2 separate regions of the Homo sapiens genome follow, and region 1 is linked to region 2. Evidence: fine-mapped expression QTL. A gene starts in region 2. The other region holds a variant in brackets. All regions are shown on one strand. Distances are from middle to middle. Region 1 overlaps MUC2 (mucin 2, oligomeric mucus/gel-forming). Region 2 holds the start of TOLLIP (toll interacting protein).

Region 1 (5,355 bases), 230 kb before region 2:
AGCTGGGGGGACACTCACCGTGACGGGCACCGGGAGCTGGGGGGACACTCACTGAGGGCACCGGGAGCTGGGGGGACACTCACCACGGGCACCGGGAGCTGGGGGGACACTCACCGCGCCGGGCACCGGGAGCTGGGGGGACACTCACCACGGGCACTGGGAGCTGGGGGGACACTCACCACGGGCACTGGGAGCTGGGGGGACACTCACCACGGGCACCGGGAGCTGGGGGGACACTCACCGTGACGGGCACCGGGAGCTGGGGGGACACTCACCACGGGCACCGGGAGCTGGGGGGACACTCACCACGGGCACCGGGAGCTGGGGGGACACTCACCACGGGCACCGGGAGCTGGGGGGACACTCACCGCGGGCACTGGGAGCTGGGGGGACACTCACCACGGGCACTGGGAGCTGGGGGGACACTCACCACGGGCACCGGGAGCTGGGGGGACACTCACCGTGACGGGCACCGGGAGCTGGGGGGACACTCACCACGGGCACCGGGAGCTGGGGGGACACTCACCACGGGCACCGGGAGCTGGGGGGACACTCACCACGGGCACCGGGAGCTGGGGGGACACTCACCGTGCCGGGCACCGGGAGCTGGGGGGACACTCACTGAGGGCACCGGGAGCTGGGGGGACACTCACCACGGGCACCGAGAGCTGGGGGGACACTCACTGTGCCGGGCACCGGGAGCTGGGGGGACACTCACCACGGGCACCGGGAGCTGGGGGGACACTCACCGTGACGGGCACCGGGAGCTGGGGGGACACTCACCACGGGCACCGGGAGCTGGGGGGACACTCACCGTGCCGGGCACCGGGAGCTGGGGGGACACTCACTGAGGGCACCGGGAGCTGGGGGGACACTCACCACGGGCACCGAGAGCTGGGGGGACACTCACTGTGCCGGGCACCGGGAGCTGGGGGGACACTCACCACGGGCACCGGGAGCTGGGGGGACACTCACCGTGACGGGCACCGGGAGCTGGGGGGACACTCACTGAGGGCACCGGGAGCTGGGGGGACACTCACCACGGGCACCGGGAGCTGGGGGGACACTCACCACGGGCACCGGGAGCTGGGGGGACACTCACCGTGCCGGGCACCGGGAGCTGGGGGGACACTCACCACGGGCACCGGGAGCTGGGGGGACACTCACCACGGGCACCGGGAGCTGGGGGGACACTCACCGCGCCGGGCACCGGGAGCTGGGGGGACACTCACCGTGGGCTGAGAGCCCTTCTCGGTGCACTTCGGGGTGGAGCGGCTGCTGTGCCCCAGCCTCACCCTCACTGCGTGGCCTCTGCGGTTCCAGCCAAGACCTGCCCCGGGAACCTGGTGTACCTGGAGAGCGGCTCGCCCTGCATGGACACCTGCTCACACCTGGAGGTGAGCAGCCTGTGCGAGGAGCACCGCATGGACGGCTGTTTCTGCCCAGAAGGTGCGTGTGGAGGATGGCCCCGCCCTGGCACTGCCCACCAGATGAGAGGCAGCCCTGGCCTGGGGTTCTCGCCTGCGCTGAGGGGACGGCTCCGCTGGGTGGTGGGGGCAGCGGCGGCACAGAAGTGCCTCTCCCTCCACCCGATACCGGGGGAGAAGGGGCCTCGGTGTGAGGCCCTTCCCAAAGGGTGGCTTCAGGGAGGCCGGGAAGGGGGCTGCCTTCCTGGTTATCACCCTGGGGACAGACCTCCTCCTGCCCGGCCCCTGGCCTGGTGCCTGAGGCCTTTGGGAGCAGCTCGATTGTCAGGGGCAGGAAGGTGGCCTGGAGGCTGGACCCCCATGGCCAGACCCCAACCCAGGGACCAGGTGGGGACCGCAGGCGTCAGCACAGGGGACCAGTGGTGCCTGCGGGTGGGAGGCCTGGCTGGCAGCCCCTCGGTGGGGATTCTGGCTCTTTCTGAGCCAGCCGGGGTGACATCGCCTCCCTGGCTGTCCCAGGCACCGTATATGACGACATCGGGGACAGTGGCTGCGTTCCTGTGAGCCAGTGCCACTGCAGGCTGCACGGACACCTGTACACACCGGGCCAGGAGATCACCAATGACTGCGAGCAGTGGTGAGTCCCGGGGCCAGGGCTGGGCACAGCAGAGGCTGGGGCGGCTGAGCCCTGACCCTGTGCCCCGCTGCCCAACAGTGTCTGTAACGCTGGCCGCTGGGTGTGCAAAGACCTGCCCTGCCCCGGCACCTGTGCCCTGGAAGGCGGCTCCCACATCACCACCTTCGATGGGAAGACGTACACCTTCCACGGGGACTGCTACTATGTCCTGGCCAAGGTAGGCTGCCCAGGGTCTGGGGCATGGGGCAGAGCTGGGGCTGGCATCCAGGCCCTTGGCTGTCCCGGGGTGGGTGGGCTGGCTGTCCCTGAAGCAGAGGGTGCCTGTGGGCTGTCCTGGGGCAGGTGACCATGCTTCTGCTCTCTGGCTGGAGAATAAGAAGCAGGCCTTCCTTTCTAAGCCACTGCCGGGTCCTAGGGTGCAGGGTGCTGCCCGTCCCGGCCCTCAGCAGCTGCACTGCCTCTTGCCCCATCACAGGGTGACCACAACGATTCCTACGCTCTCCTGGGCGAGCTGGCCCCCTGTGGCTCCACAGACAAGCAGACCTGCCTGAAGACGGTGGTGCTGCTGGCTGACAAGAAGAAGAATGTGAGTGGTCCTGCCCCCTCCTTCTGGAGCCCCAGGTCCCCCGAGGGGGGCCCTTCTCAGCCCTGAGCAACCTCGGCCTTCCCTGCAGGTGGTGGTCTTCAAGTC[C/T]GATGGCAGTGTACTGCTCAACGAGCTGCAGGTGAACCTGCCCCACGTGACCGGTGAGTTGCGCCCCAGGGAGGGGCCCGGGCCCTTCGAGCTCCACTGGGCCTGCAGTGATTCGGACAGTCCAGCCACCTCGGACCCAGGAGGCTGGGTGGGAAGGTTCCACGGGGGGAGGGTCCCTGCGGCACCCAGCAGGCTCCGTCCTGGGTCCTCTGCTGGAGGGGGTGGTGGGAGGGTGACACCCTCCCGCTGCTCACCTGGGCCAGGCAGGTCCCGGGAGCCCCGCCCCTCGCCATGCCCCTTACCGTGTCCCTCATCGTGCCCCTGCCCACAGCGAGCTTCTCTGTCTTCCGCCCGTCTTCCTACCACATCATGGTGAGCATGGCCATTGGCGTCCGGCTGCAGGTGCAGCTGGCCCCAGTCATGCAACTCTTTGTGACACTGGACCAGGCCTCCCAGGGGCAGGTGCAGGGTAAGTGGCCCCACCGGGGTTGCCCCAACAAAGGCCCACAGGGGGGCCTGCTAGCCCCAGACTCTTCCCAACCCTGTCCTGGCCCCTCAGGCCTCTGCGGGAACTTCAACGGCCTGGAAGGTGACGACTTCAAGACGGCCAGCGGGCTGGTGGAGGCCACGGGGGCCGGCTTTGCCAACACCTGGAAGGCACAGTCAACCTGCCATGACAAGCTGGACTGGTTGGACGATCCCTGCTCCCTGAACATCGAGAGCGGTGAGGCTCGGCAACACGGGCGCCCCCACCTAGCGTGCCTAGGGTACCCGGCCCATGGCCTGGAAGGGCAGACGGGGCTCCCAGCAGGAAGCATGGGTGGTGAGGGGCAGAAGTGAGGTGGCTCTCCTCCAGGGGCAGCCCGGCCCCTGCTGCTTCCTGCTGTGGCTAGTTTATGGCGGCCATGGTGGCAGCCTGCCAGGTGACCTGGAAGAGGGCCTGGGCTGGTCCCTACCTGCCCCGTCATGTCCAGGATGCTGGGCCCTTGGGGGTGAGAGACGGGAGGTGGTGGGTGCCCTGCAGGGGTTTCTATCTAGCCAGGAGCTGCCTGGAAATTTGACTCACGGGGAGGAAGGGGCCTGGGCATCGGTGCACAGAGGGAACCATATCTGGGGCCTAGGCAGCCAGGCAGCAGGGCCCAGGGGATCTCACGGGGGTCCCGGGCCCCGCTGAAGTTCCGATCCCCCACTCCCCAGCCAACTACGCCGAGCACTGGTGCTCCCTCCTGAAGAAGACAGAGACCCCCTTTGGCAGGTGCCACTCGGCTGTGGACCCTGCTGAGTATTACAAGGTGGGTGGGACCCACACCCCCAGGCCCCCATGCCATCAAGGTGGACTCAGGGCACCCCCAGCCCCCCATGCCACCCGTGAGGTGGACTCAGAGCACCCGGTTGGGCCCACTGGTTGCTGTGTGTGCGTGTGAGCTTGCGTCTGTGAGCGCCAGGCCACACTCTGCCTCCCTGCCTCACTGCCCGTCCACCTTGCTCTGTCGCCCAGAGGTGCAAATATGACACGTGTAACTGTCAGAACAATGAGGACTGCCTGTGCGCCGCCCTGTCCTCCTACGCGCGCGCCTGCACCGCCAAGGGCGTCATGCTGTGGGGCTGGCGGGAGCATGTCTGCAGTGAGTGCCGTCCCCGTGGGCTGCATCCTGGGGATGGGGTCCGGGCTTTGAGCTCCTGGGACGGGGCTGGGGGCCCTGAGCACGGGTGGTCCAGGGAGAGGGGTTGGCCCCCTGCAGCCACGGACCAGGCTCCAGCTTCGTCGGCCGGTGGTAGCAGGAAACCAGCAACTCCTATAGCAAGGGGCGGCCACGTAGCAGGGGCAGAACCTGGGGTGGGCCTGGAGCTGTGGCGGCCGAGTGTGGGAGTGGGTCCCAGAGTGTGCACTCCCTGGCCCCCTGGCCACCCTGGGGATGGGAGCTGGGCGTCTGGCTCTTCCCGTCCCTCACACCACCCCGTGGTCCTCTGCAGACAAGGATGTGGGCTCCTGCCCCAACTCGCAGGTCTTCCTGTACAACCTGACCACCTGCCAGCAGACCTGCCGCTCCCTCTCCGAGGCCGACAGCCACTGTCTCGAGGGCTTTGCGCCTGTGGACGGCTGCGGCTGCCCTGACCACACCTTCCTGGACGAGAAGGGCCGCTGCGTACCCCTGGCCAAGTGCTCCTGTTACCACCGCGGTCTCTACCTGGAGGCGGGGGACGTGGTCGTCAGGCAGGAAGAACGATGGTGGGTACCTGCTCGGGGGTCAGGTGTGGCGTGGGGGCGGGGGAACTCCTTCTGAACCTGCCCCAAGCGGAGACCTGGGAGTCTCTACCTGGGGAAGCTGAGACACCCAAGGCTGAGGGGTGCCTGGGGTGGGGGGCGCTGAGAGGCATCAGGCTCACATCTGCGGGGAAGCTGCTGGCTGTCTGTGGCCGTCCTGCATGGGCCCCGCTCATCCCTGGCCTTTTCCACAGTGTGTGCCGGGATGGGCGGCTGCACTGTAGGCAGATCCGGCTGATCGGCCAGAGTAAGTGGCACTGCCCCGGCCACCCCTCCCCAGCCACCCCTCCCTGCCTGCCCTGGCCACCCTCCCCGGCCACCCCTCCCGGGCCTG
Region 2 (5,364 bases):
CCACACAGCTCAGCTGTCCTTATGTGCTGCCATGTCTACCGTGCTGCCCTGGAAGACCCCAGTGGCAGGAACCACCTGGTTGTCCCCTGCATCATGGCCATCCTGAACGCCACAGTTGGTAGCGCTGGTTGATTAAGTCACATGTACTCCAAGCAACACCTGAGACCCCCGTCGCTGACAACACCTTCTTAAGAGACCCTGGCAGCTCCGAGCCAGACCTCATGTTACTATGCGTTTACCGGTCAACGGGGGTGCCCCTGAAATACCTGCTCGTCTACATGATGGAAACAGCCCAGGAGGCACTGGGCAAGAGGAGATTCTAACGACACCTCAGCACTTGCCAGCACAGGCCCTGCGTGTGAGAACATCTCCTGCCGCTCCCACTTCCTCATCGCGGGTGTAACAGCGCTGCACGCCGGTGCCCCTCAGAACAGGAAGGGCCTGCCTCCCACTGCTCCCTGCCTGCTCAGCACCTGATGCATTCAAAATCAGTCCTACACCCCAGTGGGGTTCCAGATGAGGAACAAGTTCCCAGGAGGCAGAGGATGTCTCCCAGACCACACAGCAAGGAAGGGGCCATCCTGCCTGGCCACCATGCCCCCCTGCTCTCCAGGAGGACACAACAGCAGGGTGCTGGTTCCCTTGTTGCTCTGAGTCTCCTGTTAGGCAGAAAGGAGCACTTGGCTGCCACGGCAACTTGCGGGGACTCACTGTGGTGGAGTAAAGATGAAGAGGTAGAGACGCTGCCATCAGAGGCCGTCCAGGACCTCTGCCGACCCGTAGGCTCCACACCTGAGTCTCATAAGTGTCAGGAGGTTTCCTTCAAAGTCCTCAGAAAAAGCAGCTATGCCCAAAACCTGGGGCTTCATTCTAAACTCAGAAAAAATGTTCTACCTGAAGAATTATCTCCTCGGGAGAAACACCAGGACTTGTGGATACAGTGTTAAGGGTGGGGAGCCCTGGTGACCCCTCCACCACGTCCAGTACTGGGCTGCGCGAGGGCAGGGACCTTGGAGCATCGTGAAAAAGGACTTTTTCCACCCACGGCATGTTCAGAGCCACTGTTGATAAAAACTGTACCGCTCACGACAGCCTGCCCCAGCCCAGCCTCAGTGAGTGACACGGTTTGAATCTGTGTCCCCGCCAAATCTCACGCTGAATTATGATCCCCAATGTTGGAGGTGGGGCCTGGCAGGGTGGGTGTGTGGGTCACAGGGACAGATCCCTCGTGGCTTGGTGCTGTCCCGGTGATAGTGAGTTCTCACAAGATCTGGTCATTACAGTGTGTGGCACCTCCCCACCCCCAACTCTCTTGCTGCTTTCGCCATGTGACGTGTAAGCTCCCACTTGGCCTTCCGCCATGACTGGGAGCTTCCAGAGGCCTCCCCAGGAGCAGATGCCGGCACCATGCTACCTGTACAGCCTGCAGAACCGGGAGCCAATTAAATCTCTTTTCTTACAAATTACCCAGTCTCGGTATTCCTTTACAGCAATGCAAGAAGGCCCTAACAGTGAGCCAGGAGGCCACTCACGCCAGGAGCCCATCATCTCTGAGTCAGTCTACACCAGCTCTCCTGCAATATTAATGCTATAGAAGAAACTGCCAGGCAACTCTCAGGAGAGAATTCAGAGCAGGAAAGGTTCTCTGAAGTTCCTGGCGCCTATCCTCTCATTTGCAAATGAAGAAACTGAGGTTTTGCACGGTGGCCACTAACCGGGGACACAATTGGGCCCAAGAAGTGGTCACCACTGCCCTCACTCTGTGTAAATGAGAAAGAGGAAACAGCCATCATCTATGGGACCAACTAGAGTGCAGGCCCGCCTCCACCTGGGGGGCCATCAGGGTGCGGGACCCGCCTCCACCTGGGGGGGCCATCAGGGTGCGGGGCCCGCCTCCATCTAGGGTGCCATCAGGGTGCGGGACCCGCCTCCACCTGGGGGGCCATCAGGGAGCAGGGCCCGCATCCATCTAGGGGACCATTAGGGTTCAGGGCCCGCCTCCACCTGGGGGACCATTAGGGTGCGGGGCCCTCCTCCATTCGGGAGTCAGAGCTCGGGGCCGCCTCCATCTGGGCACCGGGCCCTCCTCCATCTGGAGACCATTGGGGAGCGGGGCCTGCCTCCCTCTGGGGCACCATGGGGCACGGGGCCCGCCTCCATCTGGGGCTCACAACGGGCGCAGGCCCCCTCCCCCGGGGCTGCCTCCCCAAAGCTCTGCCCCGGCACGGCGGTGAGCTCAAGCCTCCTGCAGCGTGGGCGCGTCCGTCCGGCCCGCCCCGCCCCGAGGTGTGGACGCCGCCGCTCCCCTCCGGCCGGCCAGGCGCCCCGCGTGCCCCGGGAGAGCCGCGGAGTCGGCCCGCCAGCCGCAGCTGAGCAGTAGCCCTGACCCAAGGCCCCGCCCGCAACCGCAGGTCACCGCCCCCGCCCGACCCTCGCCCGGCTGCCTCACCGGCCCGCGCTGAGTGCTGACGGTGGTCGCCATGGTGCTGCGGCGGCCCCCGTGGCTCGCCGACCCGACAGTGACGCGCCGGGCGACCTCCTGCGCCCCCGCCGGAGCCTGCGACGGAGACAGTTGTCACCTCGAGGCCGCCGCCGCCACAGTCAGCTGACAGCCGCCGCGCCCCGCCCCCGGCACCGCCCCACTGCGCAGGCGCCGCGCCAGGCACCGCCCCTTCCGGCTCTCGCGCGCACGCGCGCTCCAGGGTAGGGCAGGCGCAGCCTCTCGCCCGGCGCCTGCGCACCTGCTCTCTCCTCGAGCCCTGCAGCCCGGCGAAATGGCTCCCGGCGGGGCCGTTTGCGCATGCCCAGTCATGACGGTTGTCGGCGCGGGCCCTAGCGTGGCGGCGCTGCAGTCTGGGCAGTGGGTTGGTTCCTCCTCGGTCCTCTGTCGAGTGGCGACAGGGCCTAGCCACCTGGCGGGGGTGACCTTCGGACGTGCGACCCGCTCGGAGAAGGGAGGGAACTGTGGCCCGCAACAAAGCAGTGACAGGCCCGACATCCCCTGCAGGGCGATCTTTCCCTCAGCTGCCTGCCGGAGGAAGGGCCTTTCTGTTTCACAGGGCTAAAGATGGGGCGCGGTTCCTCCACGGGGCGGCTGCCGGGTGAACGGAACGGGGATGGAGGCGCTGCCAGAAGAGCCCGAGCTCGAGCCCGCCCTGCCCTCGGCCTCCCCGCCGCGCCGCTCCGCAGGAGCCCCGCTCCTCTCCTGCTCGCTCCGGAGAACCCCAGTCCGGCCTGACCTCGGCCCTCGCGGTCAGGCGCTCCAACCAGAGCGACTCCAGCTCGAACAGCGCTGGGTAAACTGAGGCTGAACCCCGCTGGCTGCATCCCCAGGAGTCGGGCGTTTACGGTCACGGGAACAGGTTAATAAACTTTTACGCAGCAGACCCGGAACTTAGGTCCCGATGTCCGGGTATCTTAAGAACAAGAAGCATTCTTAGTTGAAGTTTCGCTTTAAAGATAATGATACAGATGCTTGCGGAGGACAGGCGTTATGCAAAGATTGGCAATCCTTTGACGAGCCCAGGTAGTACAGCACGTCTCCCCCGTGATGTTTTTTGGCTTTTATCTTACATATAAACAAGCGTACCCAGGTGGACGCCTTCCTCCTCGTGCTTTTGGGAACACCCTGCTCTATGGAGTAGCCATTCTTTTATTCCTTCACTGCCTTAATAAACTTGCTTTCACTTTACTCTGTGGACTGGCCTGGAATTCTTTCTTCCACAAGATCCACGAATCCTCTTTTGGGGTCTGGATCAGGACCCTTTTCCGGTAACACAACCACTCCACTAAAAACTCTTTGTCAGTGATCTCTATATTGTTAGTGGTCAGTTCTCAGTCCTCGTCCTCCGGGAACTACAGCAAAATCGATAGTCATTCTTGCTACACATGCTTTCTTCACTCCCCATCCAGGACACCATGTGCTCTCACTTTCCTCTTATCCCAAAGACCACATCTTTGGGTCTCGGTTACCAGTCTCTCCTTTTAAAACCGGCAGCCTGGCCGCTTGCCTGTTTTGATGGGGTGTAGAGAAAAAGAACGAAAGCCCCTTCCTCAAGTTGTAGCTTAACATCCAGCCAATCCACAGCACAAGACCCAAGAAGCTATTAACCACAAGTTCCTGCTTTGGGGGCCTAGGGACTTCCCCGGGCCCCACATGTGCAGTTAGACTTATACTTCAACTATTGTTACCCCTTCCTCATTTTCACGCTAAAAATCACACCTAGGGGTAGAGATTTAAAATGTGAATGTTGCATGCAATGCATGAAGAAGCATGCAAAGCTACTGAGAAGCACTAGACAAACCCCTCCTATCCATGCCTGGACCAATCCCTTCCCTGTGAAACTAACCCACGTGCCACCCCCTGGCGGCGGGGCCCCCCACCGTTTTCCTTTCATGGTGCTGACTTCCTTGTGCACAAGCTAAATAAAGATTTCTCTTTCTCCTCGCTGCTATGTCTGCTGATCTCTCTTTATTTCTATCCTGGGAGATTACAAGATGCCAGGGCACACTGGTAACACTTTGACTCCTTAACATCGGAGTGCCTTACCTCAGGGCTCAGTCCTTGCACATCTTTTCTATCTACATCCTCAGTGAGCTCATCCAGTTCCATTCCTTTAAATGCCATCCATATGCTGATGATCCTAAAATCTGTATCTCCCACCAGGACCTCCGCTAAACACTAGATTCAGCTCTTGCCTTAATATTATTCCCCTATGGGGTGGACAGGTTGTAAGGTAGACATATGATCCCTGCCTCCTGGTGTTCACATCCTTGAATAATCCTCTTGTCTTGAGGGTGGACAGAGCCTGTGGCTTGCTTTTAAACAACAGAATATGGCAGTGGTGATGGGATGTCCCTCCCATGATTACCTGATGTTATAAAAGACTCCATCTTGCTCTCAGACTTATTCTCAAGGGTCTCTCAGCTGCTGGCTTTGAAGAGGCGAGGTGCCATAATTCCTACAACTTCAAGGAAACAAATTCTGCCAGGAATCTGAGGGGGCTTTGATCCTTCCCCAGTCAAGCCTCCAGATGAGAATGCAACCCAGCTGACAACTTAATTATAGCCTCGTAAGACCCAAGAATAAGCCAGCTAAGCTGTGCCTGAACTCCTACCCCACAAAAACTCTGAGATAAGTGTGTGTTGTTTTAAGCCACTAAGCTTACAGCCACGTGATCTGACTTAAGCATTATTAGAATTCCAGAAGAAAAAAGGAGAATGAGGCAGAAAATCTGAAGAAATAATGGCCAATAATTCTCCAAGTTAATGGTAGGCACCAAACAAAATATTTAGGAAGCAATGGATTCCAAACAAATAAACAAAACACTTAGTCAGGTCATATTCACACTGCTGATAACAGAA

The links. PIP is the estimated chance that this variant, and not a neighbour inherited with it, causes the effect. A credible set is the group of variants that fine-mapping cannot tell apart.
Region 1: its variant is the best candidate, but not a certain one, in a credible set for the expression of TOLLIP in whole blood (INTERVAL, PIP 0.53).

The regions. Positions count from the first base shown.
Region 1 is chr11:1,080,339-1,085,693 of GRCh38, forward strand. It overlaps MUC2 (mucin 2, oligomeric mucus/gel-forming), which reads left to right. Exons shown (of 58, transcript NM_002457.5): 7 at 1,324-1,449; 8 at 1,947-2,064; 9 at 2,143-2,281; 10 at 2,540-2,650; 11 at 2,739-2,808; 12 at 3,087-3,224; 13 at 3,315-3,479; 14 at 3,953-4,047; 15 at 4,254-4,380; 16 at 4,730-4,985; 17 at 5,216-5,268. Among named protein-coding and RNA genes, the nearest start is that of MUC2, 8.1 kb to the left of the region's middle. The variant C/T (reference allele first, on the strand shown) is at 2,756.
Region 2 is chr11:1,307,017-1,312,380 of GRCh38, forward strand. TOLLIP (toll interacting protein) reads right to left here and starts at 2,616. Exons shown (of 6, transcript NM_019009.4): 1 at 2,450-2,616. The coding sequence starts at 2,482. TOLLIP-DT (TOLLIP divergent transcript) reads left to right here and starts at 2,692. Exons shown (of 1, transcript NR_029409.1): 1 at 2,692-3,691. RefSeq lists silencers at 2,072-2,781, 4,307-4,436 and an enhancer at 3,012-3,773.